Regions from separate parts of the Homo sapiens genome. Here region 2 is linked to region 1. Evidence: fine-mapped expression QTL. Tissue or cell type: whole blood. Region 1 holds a variant in brackets; the other region holds the start of a gene. All regions are shown on one strand. Distances are between the middles of the regions. Region 1 overlaps AKAP1 (A-kinase anchoring protein 1). Region 2 holds the start of AKAP1 (A-kinase anchoring protein 1).

Region 1 (14,955 bases):
CTCTTTAGAGGGGGAAGAAGATAAGGGGAAGAGCAGCTCATCCCAGGTGGTGGGGCCAGTGCAGGAGGAAGAGTATGTAGCAGAGAAGTTGCCAAGTAGGTTCATCGAGTCGGCTCACACAGAGCTGGCAAAGGACGATGCGGCGCCAGCACCCCCAGTCGCAGACGCCAAAGCCCAGGATAGAGGTGTCGAGGGAGAACTGGGCAATGAGGAGAGCTTGGATAGAAATGAGGAGGGCTTGGATAGAAATGAGGAGGGCTTGGATAGAAATGAGGAGAGCTTGGATAGAAATGAGGAGGGCTTGGATAGAAATGAGGAGATTAAGCGGGCTGCCTTCCAGATAATCTCCCAAGTGATCTCAGAAGCAACCGAACAGGTGCTGGCCACCACGGTTGGCAAGGTTGCAGGTCGTGTGTGTCAGGCCAGTCAGCTCCAAGGGCAGAAGGAAGAGAGCTGTGTCCCAGTTCACCAGAAAACTGTCTTGGGCCCAGACACTGCGGAGCCTGCCACAGCAGAGGCAGCTGTTGCCCCGCCGGATGCTGGCCTCCCCTTGCCAGGCCTACCAGCAGAGGGCTCACCACCACCAAAGACCTACGTGAGCTGCCTGAAGAGCCTTCTGTCCAGCCCCACCAAGGACAGTAAGCCAAATATCTCTGCACACCACATCTCCCTGGCCTCCTGCCTGGCACTGACCACCCCCAGTGAAGAGTTGCCGGACCGGGCAGGCATCCTGGTGGAAGATGCCACCTGTGTCACCTGCATGTCAGACAGCAGCCAAAGTGTCCCTTTGGTGGCTTCTCCAGGACACTGCTCAGATTCTTTCAGCACTTCAGGGCTTGAAGACTCTTGCACAGAGACCAGCTCGAGCCCCAGGGACAAGGCCATCACCCCGCCACTGCCAGAAAGTACTGTGCCCTTCAGCAATGGGGTGCTGAAGGGGGAGTTGTCAGACTTGGGGGCTGAGGATGGATGGACCATGGATGCGGAAGCAGATCATTCAGGAGGTAGGAGGGTCTCGGGTTCGTTTAGAGGATGGGGCGCTCCCAGTATTTCTTGGAGAAAGGCTGCCAGTCTGCCTCTCCCTTCTGCTACTTGTGCAGCAAAGTCATAGTGCTCTTCAGCTCTTTATCGCAACCTGCAGAGGTCTGGACACGGCGTAGAGCTGGTGGGTAACTGAGGAGTTAGATTGCCCTGAAACCCCAAGTCATGGGAGCTGTAACTTGGTTCCTCAACCGGTGACCTTCCCCAGTGAGCCCTTCCCAAGGAACTAGCGCCAAGTTGGGCTCGCTGATTAACATTAGTGTGCCTCTTTTTCTTTGTTTAAAAAAATTATTATTATTTTGGTGCAGATGGAGTCTTCCTTTGTTGCCCAGGCTGGTCTCGCACTCCTGGGCTCAAGTGATCCTTCCGCCCTCGGCCTCCCAGAGTGCTGGGTTTATAGGTGTGAGTCACTATGCCCAGCCCATTTTTTTTTCTTTTTTAAACACTAACCTCTTTGTGTGTGCGTGTGTGTGTGTGTTTTAATGGAGAGGCCTCCTTAGCTTTACTTCCCTTGAGTGCCAGGTATGGGTGTGAGTGTTTTGAATGGTTTTTATTTCCTTTTAATCATGTGCTTGTTCCCATGTCTTCACCTGCTTTCCTTCTCCAGAAGCTCTTACAGGGTAAGTGCCCAAAGAACGGCCACAGCTTTGAATACTTGTGGGAGGCTTGAGCTTCCTGAGTTGTCGCTGTCACCTTTGCAGAAAGCCTCAGCCATTTTCTTTCTGTGCAGTTGCAGCTCCACCCCCGGGAAAGCGGGGCACTTTGATAACGAGGTGTCCTGGGTTTTTCGAGTGCTGACCCCAGCGTAGACAGTTCAGACCGCTAACTTACAGGTCAGCAGCTCCTGACCCTGCTTCTGCAGGCACCCTGGGGTGTTTTCATTTATCTCATGGAGAGAGGCCACGAATATCCCGAGTGGCTCTCTGACTTGTTTGTCCTGGAGCCATTCCCTCCCATTTCAGCTCCGGGTAGGTTGGGAATCTTTATTGGGAATTTTACCACTTTCAGCAGCATCTAGTTTGTACCACACGCTACATTTTGTCACCTCCAAGATGCTGTTAAGACACTACTGTTTTTATGTACCTTGGAAAGAAAAAAGTGCTGCCAGTCATGATTATAGAAGGCAAGATACTATATGATGCATCCTAATCTCGGGATGTTTAAATGTTTCTTAAAATACTGCATCTGAAAATGGGTGATTTTTATTTTATTTATTTTTTAAGAATAAAGGAGTTTCCCTTTGCTTACTGCCCCTCAGCTGAATTAACAAGCCCCGCAGCCTTGTCTGCCAACTCTAGATGGATAGTAGTAGCTACTCAGACCTGTTGAAGTCTTCTGAGTTTAGGCTTGAACCTAAGCCGTGGTGATGGGCAGGGAGGTTTAGGGATGGCACGTGGAAATGAGGTAATACTGTCCACGAGCATGCGGTGGGTGCCAAGCACGAGGTTAGTGCCTCGCATGTACCTTCATGTCAGCCCTGCTTTGTTTGTGAGGAAGTTGAAGCTGAGAAGGGGACCAGGGACCACCCCACTGAGGGAGCTGGAAGCTGGCCTTTGAGTGCAGCCTGCTAGAGTCCGGGTGTGGTTCTGAGCCACTGCTGGGAGCCATCGGGATGGCAGGTGTTAGCCAGTCCCATTCTGTGGGGCAGAGGCTGGATACTGTGAGTGAGCAGAGCTCCCCGCCCCCTCGCCCAGCCCCTGTCAGCCTGTTATGCTTCCCGCAGGCTAGCCAAGCAGTCTTCCCCCAGAAGGGGTACTTTTCCCTGCATGAATCCTGTTCGAAGCGCCTAGTGTTAAGGGGGGAAGTCATTTTGAAGGTGATTCTTCCTTAGCTGGGAGCAGGATCTCTTGGGCCTTAGTTCTCTGCATCCAGTGTATGGGTTACTTGGCAAAGGATTATACTCAGGGTTTGGAGAAACCATGTGGAAGGTAACCTAATTGGTAGACTCTCAGGAGTGATCTATTTCTGGTGATTGAGTCATCCATATTTAAGCCAGGGCCACTTCTCTTGAGCTGATCTGGACCCGCTTTTTTGTGACGGTCCCTTTGGCACGCTCTTGAGTGAGAGTGGAACAGCCCAGGTCGGGAGCAGAGTCTGTTCCCATTGGGTTTTCTTGGGCATGAGCTTTGGCTCAGTCTTTTGACCAAGGGAGTATTTGAGCCAGAAGAGTGTTCAGAGTTGCATGAATCAGGCCTAAGCAAAGGGAAAGGAGACTCTCCTTTTTTAGTCCACATATGGCAGAGGAACGAGCGGGTCCCCGCTAGGTATAAGAATGGGGCCCTCAGGCAGGCCAGTGAGGACTTTGTCTAGCTCTGCTGGGCTGAAGGCCAGTACCTATGACCCTGGGACTGGGCCCTGGGGACAGGAGACTGACCCTTGGTCTGAGGGGGTAGGATAGTTGGAAGGGTGTCAAGGTGTTTGTGGTCCATCGGTCTGGCTCTCAGGACCATGTGGACCTCAAGCGTGTCTCCTCCCCCGCCCTCTGGGCTCCCCTTCCCTGGGCGCAGTCTGTCTCTTCCAAGTTCACCACTTGTGTCTCTGCTCCAGCAGCTGTGGCTGGGTGCGGCTGCCAATTAAGCAAGTGGGACTGTAAGTGACAGGCTAAAATTAGGTGTATCGACACCCCCAGTTCTCCTTTCATTGGGGTTGTTCTGAGCCTTCTAGACTGTAAGTTGACAGTCACCTGCCAAGCTTGAGGAGC[G/A]GGTGTGGGGCAGGGCCTCCTGGGAATGTGAGTTTGGGAAGTTCTTGGTTACTGGCTGCTCTGAGTGGGGTCTGTGTGTGTGCGTGCCTGCTGCTTCTTCCCCTGCAGGTTCTGACAGGAACAGCATGGATTCCGTGGATAGCTGTTGCAGTCTCAAGAAGACTGAGAGCTTCCAAAATGCCCAGGCAGGCTCCAACCCTAAGAAGGTCGACCTCATCATCTGGGAGATCGAGGTGCCAAAGGTAGGGGCGGAGTCCCCCAGGCTGGTTCTGTGGTAAGCCCAAAGCTCCCTGGGGCCAGGGCCATTAGACCTCAGGGAGGGAGGGGGCTGGGAGAGGGACAGTAAACCAGAAGGAGCCCTGGGTCAGCCAAAGGCCGCAGGGAAAGGACACGCTACACTTTGCCAAGGCTCAGAGAGCTTCCTGCAACATGGAATTCCTCCAGCTGCCTCCAGGAGCATCTTATTCTTGTACTTCTCAAACTCGCAGGCCTGTGTGTCTCCCTTGGGGGTGGTTCTTGCATATTCTGGGGCTCAGATCTATTTGGAAAAAAAACACCAAGGCCGTGGGGGCCAGCCAGAATCCCTTCACTGAGCTCTGCTCAAGTGCTCCAAGTGTATTTTATAATTGAGCAAAGCATAAATCCATATTTTAGAGAACTTGAAAAGTATAGAAATACATGCAGAAAATAAAAATCAGCTCTAATCCTACCCTTGAGAGTGACTGTGAAAGACTTTTATTTCCTTCTCATCTTGCACCCTGTGGTTTTTAAACAAAACTGAGATTATGTCGCTTTAATTAATACTTTAAATATTTAACAATTTAATTTTCGTGTGTTATTCTTTGAAAATGTAACTGTAACTGCATTATTCACTGTGTGGATGTCAGTTTACTTCATCAGTCCCCCATTCCTGAGTGCTTAAGTGGTTTCGAGCTTCTTGCTATTAGAACTTACAACATATTAGCTTGATCTTGATGTTTATCTCTGGGGCTCAGAAATAATTTGTCAGACCGCATTCTCCCAGGGCCCTGGGCTCTGTGCTCAGGTGGAGACTTGGCTTGGTCTGAACTCTGGGTCAGAGTGGCTGTTTTGACCCTGGGTTGCGAGGTCTCTTGGTGGTTTCCTCCCTGGGGGGCCCTGTTATCCGTCCTGCCTGCTTTTCCTTCAGTGGTTACAAAGGGCATGAAGAGAAAGGCTGTGCCTGAGGATGGACCATGTCCCCAGTAGCTCCTCCGGGAGGGGGTCGTTGGCGGTTGTGTGGGAGCCCATCTTACGTAAGGGCTAAGTTTGGCTGCTTCTATCTGCCTTGAACTCTGGCGCACTGGGCACTTCTGCATGCCTCCTGCTCTGCAGGCTTCAGCCTGCTGTCACTTGGCAGCGGGAGCCCAGGGTTCTTAGACCTTCATTTTCAAATCGAGCCCCTTTATCTTTGGATCTGAGTAGACTTGAGGGAGAGGGGCACGAGAAATCGAGAAACTGTGTGCTGGTGAAACTTCTCAGCATGGCTTTTAGAGGAGAAGATGCTGCTGCCTTTGCAGCTTTCCGGGTCTGGGCCACATTGTTGGGATGAAATGGGAACTGCTTGGTCCTGGAGCCAGACTGCCTGGTTCGACTTCCTGGTTAGCAGCTGTGTGACCTTAAGGTAGTTACTTAGCCTCTCTGGGCTTGTTTCCCCATATACAGAATGGTGATAAAGTTATCTGTGTTTCACAGGTACTATGAGTAAATGTAAGTGCTTAGAATAGTCCTGGAAAATAAATGCTGACATGGTAACAGCTAATATGTTTGAGCATGATCTTGTGTAAAACAGAAGTAGGTCTTTGGGTGTCCAGGGAATTGGTTTCCCTTTAACCCTCTCATCTCTTTTTGTCTTTCTGGAAGCACTTAGTCGGTCGGCTAATTGGCAAGCAGGGGCGCTATGTGAGTTTTCTGAAGCAAACATCTGGTGCCAAGATCTACATTTCAACCCTGCCTTACACCCAGAGCGTCCAGATCTGCCACATAGAAGGTCAGTAACATCTGCTGCTTGTATTGCCTCTTACCTGAAATATTAAATAGAAGTGAATAGCATCTGAGTTTCAATTGCTATCTTTTTGGAATAGGAAACCCTGCTTCTCATCCCAGGGAAGGGAGCATTAGGTATCTTCCCTGCAGCCTTTTCCCCATTTCAGGTGCCTGCGGGAGACTCAGGTCCCTCCCTACTCTGATCTTTGGCCAGGAGAAGTGTGGGTGCTTGGTTGGGCGGGGCCTGGGTCCTGGGTTCATAGTGCCCACCACCCCATAAAGGCTTCTCTCAAAGCAGAAGTGCCCTGTGTGCAATTCCCCCTTGGCATTTTCACAGCTGCCTGCCTCTTCTGTTGCATTGAAAGCATGGATCATAATGGCAGAGGTATCATTTGAAAGGCTTAGATGCCTTTCTTCCTAAAGCAGAGCTTAAGTGTTTTGTTACCTCAAAGATGCACTTGAACTCTATGCAAAGTCCAGTGGAGTGGGGTCTGTGGCTGTGTTTTTGTGAGTGTGGGTGTGAGTTTCCTCTTACAGTGATTGTATGTCCTGCCCCCATCCGCTATTTAGGCTCTCAACATCATGTAGACAAAGCGCTGAACTTGATTGGGAAGAAGTTCAAAGAGCTGAACCTCACCAATATCTACGCTCCCCCATTGCCTTCACTGGCACTGCCTTCTCTGCCGATGACATCCTGGGTGAGCGTGCTACTGGGTGATCCGGACTTCTTGCCACTTTCCCCCAAACCTACCCCAAACAAGAAACTCCCCAGACCTCAGGCTAAGAAGGCCAAGTGCACATGAGTGCCTGCGCCCTCTCTTCTCTGGCCTCTGCTGGTCGGTTCTGCTATGGGACTGTGTTCTGGGGACAGGGCTTAGGTGGTGATAGCGCTGGCAGGAAACCAGAGGCCTCTTGGTCCCCACATGGGAGGACTACTTTTCCTGGCTCTCCCCCTGGGCACCTTTTAAGTTTTCTAGGCGTTTGCTTAGAAAGGATGGTGTAGTTCGGACAGGAGATTGGGTGTGTCCAGGGTCGCCGTTCACCACCTGAGACCTGGGTGGGACTAGAATCATGGGTTTGGATGGCGCTTGTTCTTTCTTCTGGTTGAGTCAGGCCTTAACAGTGGCCCTGGTGAAGGATCTCCTTCCCCTTCCCCTCCCCAGGAGGTGCCTAAATTACAAAGAAGAATGAATACTCCCCACCAGGCCCGGAAGTCCAGTGACTCTTGGGAGGTTGCCCCAGGAGTTTGGCAGAGGGAAGAGCTGCTATCTCCAGGGCCCCTGTGTGCTGCTGACTGCAGGGTCTCTCAGGGCCGTGGCCCATATCCTGCCGTGTGCCTCTGGCCCTGGTTGGGTCTTATCTCACTGGGAGTAGAATTGCAGAATTCTGTGGGCCAACGACTGTTGACTACGTTTTACACAGATGGACAGATGGGCTGACTATAGCTCCAAGGAAATTGTCCTCCTTCGTGTTTTTTTTTTGTTTTTTTGTTTTTTTATGGATGGTAGGCATTTCAGTTTTGTGTCTTCCCCTTTGCAAAGGCCCTTGGGCTGGAGGGAAAGGATTGGGATATCTTTTTCCTGTGGATATGTGAGAGTAGGCTGAATACCACTTTATGCTTTACTCCTGAATCAAGAGTTTTTTCCCAGGAGGCTCGGTCGTAGACTCACTCTCTTTTTTTTTTTTTTTTTTTTTTTTTTGAGACAGAGTCTCACTCTGTTGCCCAGTCTGGAGTGTAGTGGCATGATCTTGGCTCACTGCAACCTCTGCCCACCAGGTTCAAACGATTATCCTGCCCCAGCCTCCTGAGTAGCTGGGATTACAGGTGTGCTCCACCATGCCCAGCTAATTTGTATGTTTTTAGTAGAGATGGGATTTCACCATGTTTGCCAGGCTGGTCTTGAACTCCTGACCTCAGGAGGGTAAGCAGTAGGAGGGAGAGCAAATAGGAAGCAGACTCTGCTAGACCTTGACCATGGACCTGACCTGAGGCCACTGCTTGCTCTTGGGAGGGCAGCGTAGATGCTGTCAGACCATAGGCTCCTGGGGTTGTCTGCCAGTCCACAGGAGTTGGCTAAAGGGCCTGGGGCCTGCCTACTGCTTATTTTCAGGAGTCTTGTTCTCAGCGGCCACCTCATTCCTGTGTTGCCCTCCCTGGGTCTTATAGATTCATCAACAGAAGTGGGAGGGAGGGCACTGCTGGTAGGTGGACCCTGCCCAGGCCTGTGCAAGGCCCAGCACTACCTCCGCAGTTGCTTCTTGGTTGCCCAGTGTCTGTGGGACCCTCCCTGCCTGGCCCTGAGGTGAGACTGCCCCTAATGGCTGCTCGTGGTATTGCAGGACAACAGCCACAGGGGTGTCGAACACTTTCTGTTGTTAAAGTAGTCCTTCAACCTCTACCTTCTGGGTGCCATGTTGTCTTGAGTTGCCCTTTTCAAAGATATGCTAGCCCAGAGACTTGCCCTTGGGTCTCGGGACTTATTCAAAGATGAGATAAGAAGGATTGTTTCAGTGACCGCTCCCCCTTCCCCTCTACAGCTCATGCTGCCTGATGGCATCACCGTGGAGGTCATTGTGGTCAACCAGGTCAATGCCGGGCACCTGTTCGTGCAGCAGCACACACACCCTACCTTCCACGCGCTGCGCAGCCTCGACCAGCAGATGTACCTCTGTTACTCTCAGCCTGGAATCCCCACCTTGCCCACCCCAGTGGAAAGTAAGCAGTGCCCTGAGGGGTCGGGAAGGGGGACCCCTGGGGTTGCCTGTTCTGCCCTGGATCCTGATCAGGAGGAGGCTGTTCTGCGATCCTTCATGGAAGCAGCATCCTTCAATTCTTGCCATTGTTATGGAGCTGGGGTGGGTTTCCTGGCAAGGCAGAGCTGGGGTTTCCACTGGCTGGCAGAGTGATGGGTGTTGGAGTAGAGTTTTGACACAGGGATTCAGATCCCAGCTCTGCCACTAATTTTTTTTTTTAATTTTTTCTTTTTTTTTTCCCTCAAAGCCAGTGTCATAGTATCTGCCACCTATTTATTATCTGTTAAAGGGGGTGATACCCACTTGTTCCAGGAATTAGTGTTGAATACTGTATGTATTACATATAAAGCACTTATGCATATAATGGTTACCACAAAAAAATCCCCAAGTCCAACAAGCCTGTGCAGCGTGTTGGGTCATCTCCATTTAACAGATGAGAAAACTGGGCCTCAGGTGACTTGCCCAAGTGAGCAGGATCTGGGGTCTGAGCCCAGCCTTTGTCATTATTATCTTTGTTGTCCTTATCACAGAGGATGGAATGTCAGAACATCACCCATTCCTCACCAGGGGATGGCAGGGTCACTCAGTGCAGTAGAAAACCTTCTGAAGTGATCTCTGTAGCCTTTTGTGTGGATTTTTTCCTTTTGGAAGGATAAGGACTTAGTTTTCATTGGCTTCTCTAAAGTTGCCTTAACCCAGCAGTAAAGACTGAACTGGAGCCTGAGGGGTAACTGCCAGGGGTTCTCTCCAAGGGTCAGGACCCAGCACAGTCAGCCTCATGTCACAGGTCCTCATCCTGGCCAGCGTGGGCAGCTGTTGGGGTGCTGCTGGGAACGTTTACCTCCTGGTCTCGTCTGCCTCTGACCCACAGTGGGTTAGTGACTCCTTGATCCTGGGTGGCTGCCCAGGTGCTGTCAGCACCTTCCAGAGGCAAAGGCTAGAAGAAGGGGGTTTAGGCCCAGGAGGCCCCTTCTGGTCAAGCTCTCCAGCTGAGTTGTGGGCTGGAGCACACCCTAGGTATGAGGATGCTGAGATCTGCTGCACTTGATTTCTTCAGGGACTTTCTTTTAAATGTAAGGCTGGCCCTGGCCCCCATTCCCCGAGTGCTATATTTACTTGGTTTATTCCTATTCATCTGTGTCCCTCTTGGGTCCCAGAAGTTTTGGAGTAATGGATCTAGACTGAATGCTTCTCAGTCTGGATGGCCTCGGGGGCGGCACACTTGCTAGGCTGAACTTCTCACATCCAGGTTTTTCCCTCGGCTGGTCTTGGGCTTGGGGGAGGCTTTGCTTGGGGCCGGTTGCTGTTCCTGTCCCCTGCACTGTGGAGGTTGCAGGCCTCTGAGAGGTAACGCAGGGAGGTGGGTAGTGGCCAGGTGGCCCTTGGTGCCCTGCCCTGGCCCAGGCGTTCCACGCACTCTGCTCCCTACCCTGCAGTAACGGTCATCTGTGCCGCCCCTGGTGCGGACGGGGCCTGGTGGCGAGCCCAAGTGGTTGCCTCCTACGAGGAGACCAACGAAGTGGAGATTCGATACGTGGACTACGGCGGATATAAGAGGGTGAAAGTAGACGTGCTCCGGCAAATCAGGTGAGCGGAGATGCCTCAGGCAGGCCTACGCCCTGCTTGTTCTGGGATGCGTGATCTCTGCGTGGCTGGCTCAGTTGTGCCAGGGCTTGGGTGAGGGTTACTTCTTCCCTCCTGCTGCCTACTGTGTTTTAGCAGAGTCTGATAGAAACAAACTCGATTACTCGCTTAGCCAAACTGAGCTAGAAGGCCTGTATTGTGGAAGAATCCCCAGCATCATCCTTCAAAAGTGAAGCTGGGCCAGGCGTGGTGGCCTGCTGCAAATCCCAGCGCTTTGGGAGGGTCACTTGAGTGCAGGAGTTCAAGACCAGACCGGGCAGTATAGCGAGACCTCATCTCTACAACATCAACAAAAAAGGAAAAAAGTGAAGCAGGCTCCTTTTTAGGAATTTGTCATAGGAAGTCCCTCTGAGGTCAGGCTTGCAGCAGGGTCGGCTGGCTGTGTTTGGGTGTGCTGTGAGCCGTGGCCTCCTGCAAAGTACGAACCCTCTGCTTTGCTGCATCCCAGGTTATGGGCGTCACTGTACAAAGATGAATACTGGCTTGGAGTGGAGTCAGCCTTCATGTCCACATTAAACTTGTTCCTTTCTTGCCTTCCCAGGTCTGACTTTGTCACCCTGCCGTTTCAGGGAGCAGAAGTCCTTCTGGACAGTGTGATGCCCCTGTCAGGTAACAGCTGAGGCCTTTGGCTTGGGGGATTGTTGGGGACAGTTGTTGAGAGTAGGTCTTTCTCAGAGCCTCCGTTCTCACCTGGAGGATTTATGCTAACATAAGTTGCTACCACTCAAGAGTTTCTGACTGAATAGGTCTGGGCTTAGGCCCAGGAACTTACATTGCTATCAAGTTCCCAGGTGAGACCAGTGCTGCTGATCCTTTGAGATCCACTGCTCTAGACTGTACTCAGACCTCAGGCATCAAGGGGCTTCCAACAAAGGCACTTTCCAGATTATAGTCCAGACCCAGAGTCTTAGCCCCGGTGGTTGAGGGCGTGCTGGTCACTGATACTGCTCAGCCAGGCCATAGCTCCATAGGGCACAGTGGGGACACCCTATCTGGTGTCTTAGACTATGAAAGCATTGTCAGAGGGAAGAGGACTGGCAAAATCTTGGGTAAATGACTTAGCCTCAATTTTCACCCCAGAACATGGGAATGGTACCTGTCTTTGATGCTGGCTGTGAGAATTACATAAACCTAAGATCTGGTGTGTAGAGGGTGGCGAAATGGCAGCTGTTTATGGCTAGGAATTTTATATTTGTAGGTGATAGTTCATCCCATCCCACTCCCTCCCCAGGTTTGCCCCTTCTGATCTCCTTCTTGCTTGTCTTAAGCGATTTGCATGCGTTAGAAATACTACAGTCTAGCTGGAGTCGGCTTAGAGGGAGCACTGGGGCAAGATCTTTGTTTTGCTTCTTTTATTGCTGTTGCCCCTCCTTCCTCTCTGCTTCTGTCCATCTAAGCGATCTGTCCAGACCCAGCTGAAACTTTCTCCTTCGTAAGATTTTCCCGGATCTTCCTTGGTAAACCCCTGTCTCTCCCATCCTTGCCACTGCTTGCCTTGGGTATGGTGTTCTATGTAACTTTTGTAATCCAGCAAAGCTGAATGCTGCCGCAGCGCCTTGCCCACTCTGAGTGGCTGGCCTTATTGGGCTGTGTGGCCAACTGCCTGGGTTTGATTCCCACCTTCACCACTTGGGAGCTGGTTGACCTTCAGGAATCCACCTTTGCCTCAGTGTTCTCTCCTGTAAAGTGGGGATAGCACTTGGTGTTACTAATTTTGTGGAAGAACACATATGCTCTGCACTGCCAGCATCCGAGTTGGTGGGGGTGGGGGTGGTGCTGCTGCTGGTGGTATTGGTGGTGGTGTTAGTGGTGAAGTTTCTGTCCATCTGTTGTCTGTGCTGCACCAGTGGGCAACATGCAGTAGCGGCCCTTAGTTTATCCACTGGGAGTCATATGGAGGCCTAGGCTCTGTCTCTGACCTGGGTGGATCTCCCCAGTGCAGTTCTCAAGTTCCACAGCATCTGAAGCATTCTACTTGGAATGCACCTGAAACTTGTGTACATGACAAGGGTGCCTTGCCTCAGTGAGAGCCTAAATGCCGCTTTTCCTTTTCCTCCTGAAGACGATGACCAGTTTTCACCGGAAGCAGATGCCGCCATGAGCGAGATGACGGGGAATACAGCACTGCTTGCTCAGGTGTGTGGTTGGCAGGGGTGGGGGAGGCAGGCTGGCTGGGTTCTTGGGAACTGACCTTTCAATGCCTTCTTTCCTGTGGCTTGGCCCTGGATTGACCAGCAGTATTTAAGGAAAGGTGCATGAAGTAGCTAATACTTGATATTAGTCTGTTCTCACATTGCTGTAAAGAAATACCTGGGACTGAATAATCTATAAAGGAAAGAGGTGTAATTGACTCACAATTCTGCGGGCCTGGGGAGACCTCAGGAAACTTACAATCATGGCAGAAAGGGAAGAGGCACGTCTTACATGATGGGCAGGCAAGAGACAGTATGTGAAGGAGGAACTGTCAGATACTTATAAAACCATCAGATCTCATGAGAACTCACTATGACGAGAACAGCATGGGCACACCGCCTCATGATCCAATCACCTCCCACCAGGTCTCTCCCTCGACACATGGGGATTATGGAGATGACAATTCAAGATGATATTTGAGTGGGGACACAAAACCTAACCATATTATTCTTTCCACCCCCCTTCTTCAGGTGACAAGTTACAGTCCAACTGGTCTTCCTCTGATTCAGCTGTGGAGTGTGGTTGGAGATGAAGTAAGTTCTGCCCTTCTTTTCCTTCTGTGTTGCTGGCCCGAAGTAATGGATTGATTAGGAGCTGGTCCTGGGATTTGTTTCCTCTTGAGTTAATCAGAGGATATAACTGTAGACAAGCACCTCCTAGGGAACACTTTGGATGTCCTGATTGGCAGTGGTGATGTCAGTGTCCTCTAGTGGGTAGAGGCCAAGGATGCCACTAAACATCCCATAGTATTCAGGACAGCCCCCCACAGCAAATAATTATCCAACCGCAAATGTCAATAGCGCCAAGGTGGAGAAACCCTGTGCGAGACTTTCTGGGACCTTCTGTCTGTTGAGTTTTTCTGTCCTCTATCTTATGGTATGAAAGCTTAGATTTCTTCAGCATATTAAAAAGCCTATCCTGGCCAGGTACAGTGGCTCACCCCTGTAATCCCAGCACTTTGGGAGGCCGAGACGGGCAGATCACTTGAGGTCAGGAGTTTGAGACCAGCCTGGCCAACATGGCGAAACCCCCATCTCTACTAAAAATGCAAAAATCTGCTGGGTGTGGTGATGCACACCTGTGATCCCAGCTGCTTGGGAGGCTGAGGCAGGAGAATCACTTGAACCTGGGAGACGGAGGTTGCAGTGAACCAACATTGTGCCACTGCACTCCAGCCTGGGTGACAGAGCAAGACTCTGTCTCAAAAAACAAAAACAAAAACAAAAAAACCCTATCCTTATGCCACAGCAGCCAACAGAATACTTAAATAAATGTTCCTGTTGGCTAGAGCATAAGCCATGTCCCCCACCCTGTTACTCTTTTTTTTTTTTTTTTTTTTGAGACAGTCTTGCTCTTGTTATCCAGGCTGGAGTGCAGTGGCGTGATCTTGGCTCACTGTAACCTCCGCCTCCGGGGTTCAAGCGATTCTGCTTCAGCCTCAGTAACTGGGATTACAGGTGCCTGCCACCACACCTGGCTAATTTTTGTATGTTTAATAGAGACGGGGTTTCACCATGTTGGCCAGGCTGGTCTCGAACTCCTGACCTCAGGTGATCCACCTGCCTCAGCCTCCCAAAATGCTAGGATTACAGGCATGAGCCACTGCGTCTGGCCTACACTGTTACTCTCATACATCTGTTGCCTGCAGTGGCAACCGGGGAGGGGAGAACTCATGTTGGCTAGGGAGATGGCCCCAGGATGCCATGGACAAAAGCTTTAAGGGAACTTTCTTTTCTAGGTGGTGTTGATAAACCGGTCCCTGGTGGAGCGAGGCCTTGCCCAGTGGGTAGACAGCTACTACACAAGCCTTTGACCCCCATGCTGCTTCCTGAGAGTCTTTTTTTGCACTGTTGAAATTGGGCTTGGCACTCAAGTCAAAGATGAACATCGGAATAACAAACATTGTCCTCTCCAGAAAGTCCTTTCTTTCTCCATACTGTAGTCCTATTGAGAAGACATTTCGTCTCTGAGAAAAAAGGATGGAACTATGGGTTCTCTTCGCAAAGCCAAAGGATAGTGTTTAACAAGCCAGCTGGCTTATGCTGGTTCTCAGCTGTTTAAAAAAAAAAAAAAAAAGGAATAGAAACAGTTTCAACCAGATTGTCCTATTCCCCCTGTTCCATTCCCCTCTTCTTCCTTCTATCTCCTTCCCCGGCAAAAACCAAACAAACTGGCAGACAGGCCAGGGATGTATGTTGCTTGCTTGAGAGGGTTTCTTTTACTTCAAAATCTTTCTTCAGGGAGCAAGACATGAACTGACTAATTGGTATCCACTACTTGTACAGCTTACATAAATGAGTTGATGATATTTAACCAGTTTTTATAAACTTCATTTAGGTCTCTAAACACAGACTTTTTAAATTGCAACTGTAAATATGAAATGGTCATCACATCTGACCTTGGTCAGTGGGGAGGGGAACTGGTATCCTGCCAAGCCTGGTTGTAATTTGTAACCATTTTCTATTTGTGCAAACTCTGTAAATATGTGTTTAAACAAATGTAATATTTTGTACAAGATACACTGGAGAACAAAGGGAACTCAAGATTCTTCCAGCCACATGTCACCTGTAGGTAGAAGTAAACTCTGCAGTGCAGCTTCTGCTCTTGGCCCCTCTGGC
Region 2 (15,344 bases), 30 kb before region 1:
CATAATTTATTTAGCCATTCACCTGTTGAAGGAAATTGTTTCCAAAAAGAATTTTTTTTTGTTGTTATTACAAACAATGTCTCAATGGACATTTGTATACATGTCTCCCTAAGCAGATCAGTAACAGTTTCCACCTAGGAGTCCAGTTGCTGGATTACAGTTTACATATATCTTTAACTTTACTAGATTTTTTCCAAATGTTGTGCAAAGTGGTTGTACTGATTAATATTCCCAGAGCCCAGTTTCTTAAACATTATGCAATTGTCTTTTTTTTTTTTTAGACAGGGTCTCACTCTGTTGCCCTGGCTGGAATGCAGTGGTGCAGTCATAGCTCACTGCAGCTTTGATCTCCCAGCCTCAAGTGATTCTCCCGCTTCCGCCTCCCAAGTAGCTGGGACTACAGGTGCATGCCATTATGCCCAACTAATTTGTTTTATTTTTATTTTTAGTACAGATGAGGTTTCGCTATGTTGCCCAGGCTGGTCTTGAACTCCTGAGTTCAAGCAATCCTCCCACCTCAGCCTCCCAAAGCACCAGGATTATAGGCATGAGAGATACCGCACCCAACCGTAAGCAAAAATCTTGATATCAGTTCTAGGGTTATCACCAAACAAGTGTTTTTAAAGTATCTGTGCTGGGCAAGGCAATACTTTAGGCATTTGCAGCAATTAAATGAATGAAGCCATTGCAGTGTGTGCACAAAATCCTAAGAGGTCTGGTTGGTTGTGTCATGGTAGATAGCACTAGCTCTGTTAGGACTCACCTCCAACTACAAAAGTGTCTCAGAGGGCCATGCAGGTCAAGCCCTGCACACGGGCATCCAACCCAAGGGCAAGTAGGGGCTGAAGTCCAGGCTGGGCTTCTGCACTCCACTCACCATGAAGCCTCGCACAGGGCTGTGCCTGTCTATGGAATGGAACACCTGTTGCCTAATTTGCATAATGCCACTGAATAGGCTCATGGCAGTCCTGGGTAGAATGCATTCATCTGTGGGAAACTGGTGTGCCTGATCAAATGGGAGACAGAGATTACTAAGAAATTTGCTAGGTTTTAGAATAGGTAAATCCAGAAAATGGTTCCAGAGAAATAGGAGGGGATGTGTGGAGGTTGGTGGCAATGGAAAATTTGGGTGCAGTGTCTAAGTTCTCATATTGCTATGTACTCTGCCCCATCACTCCTAGGAGTGGGTCACCTTGGCCAAATGTCTCATCCCCAGGGAAGCTCCTGTCTCCCTGAAATTCTGCGAGACTTCTGGGTCTTGCTGTTTCAGACCATCTCAGCTGCAACTGTGTGCCTAAGGGTATGCAAACTAACAAAATAAATATGGTACATGAGATTGCAAACCTTACCCAGAAAGGGTTCACTGCAGTTTCCCTACAGATTCAAGCAATTCAAATGCCCATACACAGGCATCCAGCATGGTTGGGTGGCCTCCAGGAGGATCTCAATAGTTGGACCAGAAGGTATCTCCCATTGAATCAAATGAGGTAAGTAACAGTGTTTGATGATTTAATTGCTTCTCTACATGCATGAACCTTGCTGTAGTTAAAGGACCTAAATTGGCTGTGGATAGAACCTCACCCTACCTGAAGGAGTCTGCAGAGTTTCTTAGGCTCCATTTCTAAACTAAATTCCAATTGGAAGAAGCTGGGAAGAATGGAGGGGGCTCTGGGAAGCTGGGAAATATGGCCAACCATATTCCTGACAGCCACCCATTAAACAGAACCAGAATCAGGATCTTAAATAACTAGCTAAAAAATTCCCAAGTAGTATGTGGTGGTGATGGTGCCTGGGTAGCAGGCCCCTTCATCACAGCCCCCGGATGGGGCTCCTGCCCTGGGAAGCCAGGGCACCTGAGGTTCAGAGGGGAGTCAGCGGACAGCCCTCTTTTATCATGTTCTGAATGACATCACGTTCCCTTTTACCAACTGCTGTCCATGGTTCAAGAAAGAAGGGCACTGTGTTAATTTCCTAGGGCCTCTGTAACAAAATACTGCAAACTGAGTGGCTTAAGACAGCAGAAATTTATTGTATCACAGTTCTAGTGGGAAGAAGTCCAAATCAAGGTGTCAGCAGGGCCATGCTCCCTCTCTGAAACCTGTAGGGGAATCCTTCTTTGCCTCTTCCTTACTTCTGGTGGTTTGCTGGCGATCTGGCATTCTTTGGCTTATAGATATATTAATCCAATTTTCTGTCGTCACATGGTGCTGTCTCTGTGTCTCCCTGCCTTCACATGGTTGTCTTCTGTTTTTTTTTTTTTTGAGATGGAGTCTCGCTCTGTCACCCAGGCCGGAGTACAGTGGCGCGATCTCGGCTGACTGCAACCTCCGCCTCCTGGGTTCACACCATTCTCCTGCCTCAGCCTTCCGAGTAGCTGGGACTACAGGCGCCCACCACCATGCCCGGCTAATTTTTCTGTATTTTTAGTAGACACAGGGTTTCACCATGTTAGCCAGGATGGTCTCGATCTCCTGACCTCACGATCTGCCCACCTTGGCCTCCCAAAGTATTGGGATTACAGGCATGAGCCACCGCGCCCGACCAAAACATAATTTGCCCAGGCTGGAGTGTGGTGGCACCATCACAGCTCACTGCAGCCTCAACCTTTCATGCTCAGGTGATCCTCCCACCTCAGCCTTCCAAGTAGTTGGGACCACAGGCACATGCCACCATGCTGCACTAGTTTTTTGTATTTTTAGTAGAGACAGGGTTTCACCGTGTTAGCCAGGATGGTATTGATCTCCTAACCTTGTGATCCACCCGCCTCGGCCTCCCAAAGTGCTGGGATTACAGGTGTGAGCCACTGCGCCCGGCCTGGTTGTCTTCTTATAAAGACGCCAGTCACACTGGAGTAGGGGTCTAATCTATCCCAGGATGACCTCAGCTTAACTAATTACATTTGCAATAACCCTGTTCCCACATAAGGTCACGTTCTGAGGTACTGGGGGTTAGGGTTTCAACGTTCTTTTGAAGGGACCTAATTCCACCCATAACAGACCTGTTTCTGTATAAACTGCTCCCTTGGTCTCTGGATTTGCCTCCAGTGGCAGTTGGTTAATCCATGGGTTCCAAGTCAGATGGCTTGGGTGAAAATCTTGCCATCGCTCTTGTGTGACTAAGGTCTGTGGAACAGAAATACAGTGATACAGATTGCTGTGATACAGAAATAAATACAGATAACAAGAGTATCTAGTATTTGAGGTTGATGGAGGATTAGGATAAAGGACTCTGCATGGTGCTGGGCATTAAGTGCTCATTAAGCCTTAGTTACTTAAGTGCCATTAGTATTGTTATTCCCCCAGCTCTTTCCATTGACTTCTCTAGGAGTGGGTTATTTATTCTTCCCTGCAGGCACACATGGTCCTGGGGCATAACCAAATGCATCTCCATTTTAAGAGAACTGGGAGTGGGGCGGAGTGTGGGAGGGCTCCTTCAGTGTATACATATAAAGGAGACAGTTCGTATTTATTAGCACTAAAAAAGTTCTTTCTGTAGATGCTTCCAATAGAAAAGTAGGGCATTTCTCAAACATGTGCCCCTGAAATTGGAGGGACTGCCAAGAGAAGAAAACCAACTGACTAATTTTTTTTTTGAGACAGAGTCTTGTTATGTTGCCCAGGCTGGAGTGCAGTGGTGTGATCATAGCTCACTGCAACCTTGAACTCCTGGGCTCAAGACATCCCTCCACCTCAGTCTCTGGAGTAGTTAAGACTACAGGAGTGCACCACCACATCCAGCAAATTTTTTTAAATTTTTTTGAGACAGGGTCTCACTCTGTTGCCCAGGCTGCTATGCAGTGGCACAATCACAGTTCACTGCAGCCTCAGCCTCCTGGAGTCAGGCAGATCCTCCTGCCTCAGCCTCCTGAGTAGCTGGGACTACAGGTGAGCACCACCATGCCCAGCTAATGTTTTTTATTTTTTGTAAGAGACAGGGTCTTCTTATGTTGCCTAGGCTGGTATTGAACTCCTAGGCTCAAGCACTCCTCCTGCGTCAGCCTCCCAAAGTGTTGGGATTACAGGTGTGAACCACCGCACCTGGCCACGTATCGAGCTAATTTCTAAAATTTTCTTGTAGATATACGGTCTTGCTACATTGCCCATGCTGCTCTTGAACTCCTAGCCTCAAGAGATCTTCCTGCCTTGCCTCTCAAAGCTCTGGGATTATATAGGTATGAGCCACTGCACCCGGCTCATTAACTAGCTAACTGTTTTTTGTTTTTGTTTTTTCTTTTTTTGAGACAGAGTCTCACTTTGTTGCCTGGGCTACAGTGCAGTGGTGTGATGATAGCTCATTACAGCCTCAACCTCCTGGGCTCAAGCAATCCTCCCACCTCAGCTCTGCAAGTAGCAAGGATTAAAGGCAAGTACCAGCCTGTTTAGCTAATTTTTAAAATTTTTGTAGAGATGGGGTTTTGCCATTTTGTCCAGGCTGGTCTTGAACTCCTGGGCTCAAGCGATCCTTCTGCCTTGGGCTCTCAAAGTGCTGGGATTACATGCATGAGAATTAACTACCTTTTAAAAAGAGACTCACAAGGTGGCATTTACCTTGATGGATTTTCCCATGGTCCTGTGTCAAGCCCTCACTTAGCTTTAAAACAGGTTCAGAAACTTCACCATGTTCAAGTCCCAGAACTGAAAGCTGACTCATACTAAAAATATTCACATGATGTACAAGATACAGAAAATGAGAGAGGGTAGGTTATGTAATTTATAATGATAAAAATGTCATTGGTGGACCAGTGCCTTTCATCAGTCCGATCATGGCTTCTCTCCTTAGTGAGAATGATCAGAAGGCTGCTGGGTGGGTACAGAGTCAGAGTGAGGGGCTTGGGTCATAGAATTTAAATGAATAATAGCATTGGGTTCAGATCTGACTGGTTTGACTTCTCAGAGAGCCCAGCTTCTTGATTAAATGAGATTGGACACCTTCTTCCTTTCACAGACACTTACTACTTCTTCTATTTTTATTTTTATTTTTATTTTTTTGGTCTCCTTCGAATACTTTTATTTTTTACCTTCTTATTCTGACTGACATACTCCTTTCTGGATAAAATGTTTTGCTCTATTCACCAGATTCTAATTTGTTGTTGTTGTTGTTAAGGTCAGGATTAGAGTCTGATAGAAATGATCCATAACTAATCTGTACCGAAAAAAATGCCGTATTTATAAGATCATGCAAATGATTTCAGGGTGTTGTGGACAACCTTGATGTCCCAGGTTAAATTCCTATGCATCCTAGGTTAAAATTCCTGCCTTAGGCAGACCTTGCCCATTTTTGAGCTGACAAAGCTGAAGCCTAACAACCTTATCTTATTTTCCTCATGGCCAAGTTCTTAGGATCACCTTCCACCCTCACCTCTCTTCTCATTCCTCTACTTTCTAATCTTATATTAGGGCCACCGTGGTGACCTTGGAACTGTTCAGACCTTGTGGATACTTCCTCAGCCACAGGTACTGGGTTGAGGTCTAATGGTGATTGTAGTCAATCCTATTTTCTCACCTTTCCCCCTTTGACTTGTATCTTGCACTTTCTCTAGTATTCCAGTTAACACACTCCTCTTTTCTTCCCTCATTCCTTTTTTCTGGCAGGCTGTGCCCATGTCCCCTTGCATCGGGTATGACTGACATATTTCTCTCATTCACCGCCGGTCTTTGTCCTTCTTTCTCATAACCATATTCATAGCCCCATCTCGCTGTTTTACTCCTTCCATCTTCCTGTTTTTCTTTCCTACCAATGCTTCCAGGGCTTACATCCCTGGACATCATTTTCTCAGTTTCTTTCTATTCCTACCTCCACTACTGCTAAGCATTGCCTTTTTTTTTTTTCCTTTTTTTTTTTTTTTTTCCCCGAGATGGAATCTTGCTCTGTCACCCAGGCTGGAGTGCAGTGATGCGATCTCAGCTCACTGCAACCTCTGACCCCCAGGTTCAAGTGATTCTCCTGCCTCAGCCTCCCGAGTAGCTGGGATTACAGGTGCACAACATGCCTGGCTAACTTTTGTATTTTTAGTAGAGACAGGATTTCACCATGTTGGCCAGGCTAGTCTTGAACTCCTGACCTCGTGATCCACCGGCCTCAGCCTCCCAAAGTGCTGTGATTATAGGTGTGAGCCACCGTGCCCGGCCTAGCATTGTCTTTAATATATCTTTTTAAACATGATTTTCAAACCATATTTGTATTTCCCATTCAGACCACTCCTCTGAGCTCCAGACTTGCATATCCAACCTAATTACTATTTATACTTTGATGTCACAAAAACAATGGGTCAAAAATGAAACCAACACTTCTCTGCCTTCAGATTTCTCCTTCTCAGGAAATTGCACCCCAGTTCACATTGTAACTCAAGCCAGAAGAATCATCATTCATTGCATTCATTGTTCCTTTTTCTTTACCACCAACAACATGAGTAAGTCTGCTCCTCTTTCAAAATATATCTTAAGTCCAAAGCAGTGTCTTCATCCCCAGAGCCATAATCCTTAGCTCAAACTAGCATCATTTCTTACCTGAACCACGTCCAGCATCCTCTTTCACTACTCTCCCTGATTCGACACTGATCTCTCTCTAATCTGTTCTTCCCACAGCAGCTACAGCTTGCTTTTAAAAACAGAAATTATGTCACTCTCTACTTAACCCTCTTTAATAGCTTCCTATTCATTCACGAAACACATTTTTACTGAACACCCTCTATGTACCAGGCCCTCAAAAATCCCTGCCCTCATGAAATAAATGAAGTCTAGACAGGGGTAAGGGTTATGAAGGAAAGATGGGGTGAGGGATGGGGAGAGAGAGAGAGAGAGAGAGTGTGTGTGTGTGTGTGTGTGTGTGTGTGTGTGTGTGTTTACAATTTAAAAGAGAGTCCAGGCCAGGCACGGTGGCTCACGTCTGTAATCCCAGCACTTTGGGAGGCCGAGGCGGACAGATCACCTAAGGTTAGGAGTATGAGACCAGCCTGACCAACATGGTGAAACCCTGTCTCTACTAAAAATACAAAAAATTTTAGCTGGGCATGGTGCCACGTGCCTGTAGTGGGACTACTCTGGCGGCTGAGGGAGGAGAATCGCTTGAACCTGGTAGGTGGAGGTTGCAGTGAGCTGAGATCGCACCACTGCACTCCAGCCTGGGTGACAGAGACTCCTCAAAAAATAAAAAATAAAATAAAACAGAGAGTCCAGGGAAGACTTCACTGAGTCTGAGTAGGTGACCTTTGAGCAAAGGACTTGAAAGAGGTGAAGACAGTGAGCTTTGCAGAATATTCCATGTGGAGGGAGGCCCTGAGGTAGAGTCATGACTGGCTTTGGGACTGAACAGAATAGAATAAAATCCAAGCTTCACTATTTACTATGGCAAATACTAAGTATTTACTAAGGCAGCCCAGGCCCCTATTCCCCCAAAAAACAAAGACAAGAAACGATCCTCTTTATCTCCTTTCCTGACACTCCCTCCCTCAATACATACCATCCACACTGGTCTTCCAGTTTACCAGAAGTTGTTTCCTGCTTTTTCCTGTGTTGTGCATCTGCTAGGAATACTCCTCCAACCCTTATGCCCGTATACAATTTGCAAGGCTGGTTCCTTCTCATCCAATGGGTCTCAGTTTAAATTTCATTTTAGGCCTTTTCTGACCACAGGACCTAAAACATTTGGGCTCTTTTTGGCCGGGCGCGGTGGCTCACGCCTGTAATCCCAGCACTTTGGGAGGCCAAGGCGGGCGGATCACGACGTCAGGAGATCGAAACCATCCTAGCTAACACGGTGAAACCCCATCTCTACTAAAAATACAAAAAATTAGCCGGGCGTGGTGGCAGGCGCCTGTAGTCCCAGCTACTCGGGAGGCTGAGGCAGGAGAATGGCGTGAACCTGGGAGGCGGAGCTTGCAGTGAGCCGAGATCGTGCCACTGCACTCCAGCCTGGGCGACAGAGCAAGACTCCGTCTCACAAAAAAAAAAAAATAAAAAATAGGGCTCTTTTTCTTTCTTTCCTATGTCAGTTTCCTATTTGTTTCCTTCCTGACATCTACCACACCATGCAATTGGGATTCATATATATATGAATTTGACTTAAATCTCATTAGGTATAGTAAATGGCATCTGTCATTTAAACTTGCATTTGATCACTAGTGAAGATTAAGCATTTTCCCAAGTAATTGTTAGTTCTTAGCATGATCTATTTTCTATATTTTGGCCAAACAAATGTTCATTTAAAGTCACTTTGTTTTAAGGATGACAGCAGGGCTGGACAGCCAAAACCCTACCCTCTCCATTTATTTTGGAGGAATTTATTTTCCCAAGGTCCTGGCAGAGATAGTGACTCACCGTGACTATCTCTGCAAAAATCATTCCAAAACCCACACCAATTCAGAGAAAAGTGCTTCATTTCGATAACATCGACTTGTGAAAACGAGCAAGAAAGTTGCATTTGAGTGGTACCAGGTTTCACCATTATGCAGTTATCGAGCAATTATTAATGGCCAACCCAATTATACGCTACAAGGAAATGACGGTCACAGGGAAGCTCAAAGCCCCGAAGCGAGGGAAGCCCTGCTCCTCACCGGCCCCTCCGCCTTTTCCAGGGCGCTCTCCGTCCCGAGGCAGGAGATGGCCTGGTTGACCCTTCGAGACAAGGCGGCAAAACCGGTGCTGGGCTTGCGGGGCAGGGAATCAAGGTTCCTCCGGTTGCTGTACCGTCCCGCCCGGCCCCTCTCCCGGGCACCGGAGAGATGACGGCTCTCTCGCGAGAGCGCGAGCAAGACCCGGCTCCGGGCGGCGGCGGGATGTTAGCCCAGCGCTGTAGACCGCGCCCCCTCTGGCGCAGCTGGGAGAGGCGCGGCGGAGGCACTGCCGGGAGCGGCCGGCGGCGCGCACGCGCAGGTGAGCGGGGCGGGCTCGGGAGCGCGCGGGCACAAGGGCGAGGGGCGGGGCCTGCGTCGCGCTGCGGGCACGTCGCCGCGCGTCTTCAGTATTTAATGTCTCTGTGTTCCACCCGCCTGGGCTAGCACGTGGGGGAGCTGCGGAAGCGCGGCGCTGCGGGCCGGGCCGCGGGGCACAGCCGGGGGCCGGCGGCGGCGCGCGGACTCCGCATCCCGCACCCCGATGGTAGCCGAGGAGCTGGTAGGTCGGGGGCAGCTGCGCCGGGGACCCCCTGCCGGAGACCCGAAGGCGGCGGGGTCGGGGCGATGGGGAGCCTGAGGTGCAGGTGCAGGGTGCGACGCGCCCTCCAGGTACCCCGGGGGCGGGACGCTCCGGACGCAGAGGTGTCCTGGGGGCTCTCGGCCGCCGCGCGCTGTCAGGCAGGCCCATCTTTCCCTCCCTCGTCTGCGCCCCCTCTCGTCCTTCCCCGCCGGTTGTCTGCCCGCGGGCTCCTGACAGATCGCGTGTGCGCGGCTCTGGGCGGCGCTCTGCGGCCGCGCCGTCCTCCCCACGCGCGTCACTGTCCTCGGGGGCGGGGGGCGAGGGCGCGACGCCCGGGTCGCCTCTCTGCACCTCAACTTAACCGGAGCGTGCACACCCGCCTGCGAGGCTGACCCGAGCGCGTCCCACCCAAGGTCGCCCAGCCCCGCGGGCGTTTACTTTTCAAAGGTCGTGTGTACACAGTCTGAGCCGGAGCTGCCCCTTCACTTCTGGAGCCTCGCCCAACTTCTCACCCTCGGCTCGCCCGCCGGCGCAGCCCCTGGGAGTTCCGTGCGGCGAGCCAGGGGAACTGGGAAGATGGGCCGGGACATCGGCCGGTTGTGATCCAACCGTGTTTCGGGCTGAGGGACCGTTCGAACCGAATTGGGGTCTGGAGGTCGGAGGCTCAGGGGCGTCTCGGGGGGAATTTGCATTCGTAGCCCCTGCAGGCGTGTCCGGAGGGGTGGAGGCCGTCCAGCCTGGGGTGTCTGCCGACCTCACGCCCGGGGGCCCCGACGGTCACGTGTCCGGCCCCGCCTGCGGCCCAGGGCCCGGGGTCTGCGATCTGGAGGGACCGCGCCAGTTTTGGGGTTACGATGTGCTAGGAGAGGCAGTGGCTGGATGCCTCGAACGCGGGCTTTCTGGCGTTCAACTCTTTTGTGCCCTAGCTGAAGGTCTTCCTGTTTCCCTTCCAGGGAGGGATAGGAGAAGAAAGGTGCTGATCGTGGTAGGCGGTGCTGTGGCGACTCGGAACGGCATGGGAGCCCTGGGCGTTTCGGGATCTTCCTCTCCTGGGGGATGTCCTGGGTGGCGGCGCCTTCCTGCCGCCGTTAACACAAACCCGGTGGACTTCGCTCCAGGTGCGAGTCGAGGCCTCTCAAGCTGGGTAGGGTGTATGCGCAGGGCAATTAGTGAGGTTAACCTGGGTATCTTTCCCCTACTGTAGTGCGCGTTACTTCGTGTTTAGATTTGTCTCCAGTGAAATCTAGGCTGCTGGACCTGGTGCAACAGTATCTGTTAGTTACTGATCAAGGAACACCGTTCACAAAAAGCTATTAATTCTGGCAACTAGTAGCCTTACAAGCTCTTGTAACTGCTAAGTCCTTCCCAAATTAGTACCTTTTTTTTTTTTAACTCTTTATTTAGAAAGCAAAGCTTGGACTCTTAGCACCACCCATCCACTTTGCTCTTAAAGGTACAGAACATCTTTGAAATGAAGAAGGCTGCCTGACTTGATCATTTATATAATTCCTCTGATCTTGGCATTGAAGTGGTTCACCTGCTGATTATTTAAGACCCTGAGCACTGGAAGCAAGTGAAGTTATGTTTTGGGAACCTTTTGACTTGTGTTGAACTTTTCTTTAACCTCTAACTAGTTTTGTAGGTTCTGCATAATTCTTGGGTGTATTCTCTTTGAAATATGGCCCTAGGTTAGAGGAGGTCCTCTGGATCCTACAGGCATGCAAATCACTAAAGCTTGAGTCCATTACTGGATTAATAGGCTCTGTCTTCATGCATGTTGTCAGATGATGGCTCAGAACTTGCAGGTAACAGATCCTAGCCAATGAGTGAGACAGGTCTAATGGATTTGTGTCTAGGTCTAGTTCCTTGTAGGAATATCTCTCCCATCTCCCAGTTGTTTCTAGGAAATGCATTCTCACTTGGCCACTGCAGGGTGACAGTGGAGGTGTCTGTTGTAAGTGGCCTGCTCAGGTGCTGAAGTCGATATGTCTCCAGTGTAAGGTTGCTGAACATCAATATTTAAAAGCAATTTATCTTGCTGCCTGGTAACCCAAATTATTCTTGAGCTTTGGACATAGGCTGGGTTGCAGCCATATTTTAGGGGAAGGCTGGTGTTAGCCTCTACAGTATTCCCTTTTCCTGTCCTAAAGACAAATGGAGATCATATTTGTGATACTGGGGACTGTGATAGGTGCTTAAGCATTGCTCTTCCCCTCTCCTCCCTGAACAATCCCTGAGACTGACTTTGTTTCTCTTGAATTACTTGAGTGACTTGAATTCTATTAAAAGCACCCCTCTCCTTAGCCTCTGACCCAGAAGCTTGTTTGGGAGGAAAAACGAATTGGTTTCCCTAAGCTTTGCTGGCTAGCCTCCTGCTCCCAGCCTGCAACATGACTTGATTGTGTGTGCATTTCAGGGCTTTGAAGAGCAGGCAGCTTGTAGCCAATGTACCCAGAGAGCTGGCCGTAGAGTTCCCCTAGGTCACTCCTTCCTAATCTTCCCTGTGAGTCTGAATGATTGGGCCTTTCTGTAGCTTGGTCTGTTTTCCTATTGTGGGGAAGTCAGTTGTTTCAGGTATGAGTTAATACCTTCAGCTTGTCATTCTCAGGCGTTTTCTTCCACTATGGGGAGGTAGTAGATCCTGTGGGCATCTTGTCCCATTGAAATCATCTCATATACTGTTTGAGAGTTGCTCATCTTTATGGTGGGGGGTGTATTTTAGTCCTAAATCTTGCTTCTTAGGGCAAGTTCTGTTTCTTCCATGTTCCTTCCTGGTGTAATACCTCAGGCAGTTTTCACTTTTATGATCATTTAACATTAAGTTCCCATCACATGTGGCATCCCACTGAAGGAACCTCCTGGCCTTGGTACCTAATTTGAAGCTTGGGCTGTGGAAAACATCATCAGTGAGCATGTTTGAAGTAGGACAGAGTCTGGCTGGAGAAACAGGTAGTGGGGGAGCTGGGAGCTAAACTTGAGAGGATGCCTCTTTCTTGATAGTTACTGTGCTAGGTGAGTTATGAGCACACTAATCCTTTAATCCTCACACCTCTGAGAACAGTGAGGGTGAAGCTGGAGGTCATTCTGGATTGTTTCAGTGGCTGTCACACAAATTCAAATTGAGGGGTAGAGGAACTAGGAAGCGTGGGTGTGGAGTTAAAACTAGGTCCTCTGGATGGCTTTTGTGAGAAGAACCAAGGAATATTCTTAAATCCCTGGGCTTTTCTCCTAATCTTTCTGCTGCTTTCTAAGTAGATTGTTAACATTGTGTGTGTTATCATTCAGCATTCTGAGAACTAGCTTTCCAGCAATAAATAGCTTTCAAGGTGTCCTTTGCCTTAACTTTTTCATTTTACTAAATGGTGCAGCCTTGTCCACATTCTGTCCGGGTCTTCACCATCTGGTTGTTTTTCCGGCTTGGTTTGATAGTTTGCAGCAGTCAGTGGTAAACATTGTGTTCCCTGTTCTGTAATGGTGGCTGGTTGTGTTCACCGAGCCAGGTGTCACTAAGGCCCAGTTGCACTTGGGAGCAAAGAAGGGCCCTGAGGTGAGTCCTGGAAGTAAAAATATGTATAACCTAGGGCTGATGAGGCTTGTTTCACTGCTGGGCTTAGCTGACAAGAGCCTGGGACTTGCTGCAGCTCTCAGAGCTGAAACCTGGCGGTGATTCTAGGCAGGCTGGTTGGCCTTCCAGATCTTGGTTTATTCAGTGGCTAAAAGAGGTTTGGTCAAAATTATCAGTATTCAGATTATGGTCCTGGGAGCCTTGGAGTTAGACCAAACGTGCCCAGGGGCCACTGGAGTGATGTGTTTGGGCTGGGGAGCACAGCTCAATGGGTAGTACATGTCAAAGACTTAAGGGGAAAAAAAACAACTCACTGTTCATCTCAAGTTCTTAGCTCTAAGGTGTGCTACTGTTCTAAATATTTTTTATTTTTAAAGATAGCTTTATTTGCCTAAATTTGTCCTGGGTGTGGGGAGTTTAGAGCTGCCTTGTCTGTAGGGTAGCTGCTAGCTGTGTGACTAATTAAACTTTTCAAAGTATTTTTAAAAAAATTTCTTAGTGACATTAGCCACATTTCAGGTTCTCAGTGGCCTCGTGTAGCTAGTGGCTGCCGTCCTGGTCAGTACAGGTCAAGAACATTTTCCATAATCGAAGAAAGTTTTGTTGGACAGCGCCGGCCTAGAAAGTTTTTTTTTCTCCAACTCTAAAAGCTTAATTGTCTCAACTTGTAAATCTCTAAAGCATAACATGTTTGAGCTTAGTCTTCCAGAGTCCATAAACCCAACAGCTTTGGTGACAAATTATCTACTGGTTGTCTCCATGGCATACTACAAGTGAGTTCTAGTCTGCCAGTTGGGAGTGGACGAACAGTTTTGAAACAGTTTGAGTGAGGACCTTCAGAAAGGACCTGGGGACAGGAGCGTGAAGCAAAGGTCCAGATGCTAAGCCCTTAGAAAGCCCTTTTGGTTTGAAGCCGTTTATTATCATAAAGATCCCTGCTGGTTTGTCCTTGGTCTCCAAATGTCAGATGTCAACATATTGTTACTTGGTCCTTCACCCACCTGATGACTTCCTACAGATCTCAGTGCGGCCCTTCTCTTAAACGAGGTTGTGTTTTCATTCTGCTGTTTCCAGTCCACCTAAATGTTAGGGGCCATTCTTCACAGAAGGTGTTGGGGGAGAGTGGGGCCACAGCGTGGATGCTAACGTGTTCTGTTGTGGCAGGGGTGGGGAGTTCTTTGTTTCCAGATGCCCCCTCTTCTAGTCCTGGGTGTGCTTTGTTTGAACCCTGCTAGATTGACCTTTGGTATATATAATGTGAGATCTCTTTTCTTGGAGCCAGGCAGCATAAAGGACACTTACTGATGAGCACCTACTGGCATATTAGTGGCTTTTTTTTTTCTGTGTCATTTTTATTCTCTGTCAGCCCTATGAGGTTAGTACAGTGATTAGTTTGTGGGTGAAGAAACAAGATCCGAGTAGAGTAAACTGGTCCCTGGACACAGCAAGGGCTGGACTGGCTTGGACCTGGGCTGGGGCGTGCTCCCCACCTCCTCCTCTGCCCCTGCCGCCCCCCATGCTCATTGGTTGTTGCTTATTTACTGCCCCTTTATCACCACATCCTCATTCAGGAAACTAAACTGGGTTTTACAAAGATTAAAATCATTGATCCCACATATGGAGTCTGACTTAAGTGTGTTCAGCCTCGTTACAACTCTGTGAGGGAGATATTCCCTATTACAGAACATCTTCATTTTATGGGAAACTGAAGTACAGGATCCTACTCTTAACTCTCTTGTCTTTCCAAAGCCATATTTTATCATCAGAATTATGCAACCATCGGGTGCTTTTGAAATGCACAAGTAATGACTATGAATAAAAAAAGCTGTGCCTGAGGGCTCAGGGAAACTGCTCTGAAGACTGAGCTGATTGAAAAAGACAATCCTGAAGTCACTAATTTCCCGACACCTGTCAGACCTCACTTGGAGGTCACAGACCATCTCCTGGCCCTCCAAAGGCTGTCACCCAGCAGTAGCTGGCCTCCTGATTAGAGGAGGCAGTAAGATCTTTTCAAGCACAGCCCCAGCCCCCATCCCTTCTCTGGCCTGGGCCTGGATGTGCCTTTGTGAGGTTGGGTCGATGACAGATCTGAAGGACAGTTCAGTCTTCTGTACACTCCTTCTTGCCCCTCCTTTCTGCCACTCCCAAGAAAAAGGAGCAGGAGTGATTCTCACTTTCCTGAACTGCCTTGGAGGGAGACCCACACTCAGCTGTGCCTTTAGCTGTCTCTGGGAGAAAAGGCCGTGCTGCAAATAACCTCCCTGCTTTGTCCTTTGGCTTTGGTGTGGCTCACCTGGCCAAGCATGTGCTGGTGCTATTTTTAGCAGGTGGCATCCTTTAGGAGGGCCAAGTGCATGTGGCTGCAGTGTACGGGACAGGTCCTGGTGCCAAAGCTGCTGCTGTCTCTGCTGCCACCGCCTCGTCAGGAGAGAGAGGAGAATAAAGCCACCCTGGAAGCTGCCAAGGGGTGTGTGGAGGGGGTGGCTGCTTAAGAGGTCTCCAGGGCTGCCTTTTCTATTCTGGATCTGTGGCAGGGGCCCAGCCTGCCTCCTGGTGCAGGCAGGCATGTGACTGAGGCAGCCCGGGGAGCTGGGGAGCTGGGGAGCTAGGTGTCAGACTGCTGCCTGGGGAGTGAGGACCCCTTGTTG

The links. PIP is the estimated chance that this variant, and not a neighbour inherited with it, causes the effect.
Region 2: it holds the start of AKAP1, and the variant in region 1 is fine-mapped to the expression of AKAP1 in whole blood (TOPMed, PIP 0.95).

The regions. Positions count from the first base shown.
Region 1 is chr17:57,106,175-57,121,129 of GRCh38, forward strand. It overlaps AKAP1 (A-kinase anchoring protein 1), which reads left to right. Exons shown (of 11, transcript NM_003488.4): 2 at 1-1,004; 3 at 3,851-3,984; 4 at 5,624-5,750; 5 at 6,317-6,444; 6 at 8,285-8,462; 7 at 9,937-10,087; 8 at 10,686-10,753; 9 at 12,207-12,280; 10 at 12,808-12,870; 11 at 14,076-14,955. The coding sequence ends at 14,150. Among named protein-coding and RNA genes, the nearest start is that of AKAP1, 28 kb to the left of the region's middle. RefSeq lists an enhancer at 2,695-3,296 and a silencer at 7,894-8,188. The variant G/A (reference allele first, on the strand shown) is at 3,743.
Region 2 is chr17:57,076,289-57,091,632 of GRCh38, forward strand. It overlaps AKAP1 (A-kinase anchoring protein 1), which reads left to right and starts at 8,958. Exons shown (of 11, transcript NM_003488.4): 1 at 8,958-9,110. AKAP1-DT (AKAP1 divergent transcript) reads right to left here and starts at 8,750. Exons shown (of 3, transcript NR_186437.1): 1 at 8,552-8,750; 2 at 2,999-3,122; 3 at 2,006-2,415. RefSeq lists enhancers at 2,763-3,501, 8,415-8,494, 9,534-10,036, 15,124-15,344 and silencers at 8,715-9,294, 9,335-9,634, 9,915-10,004.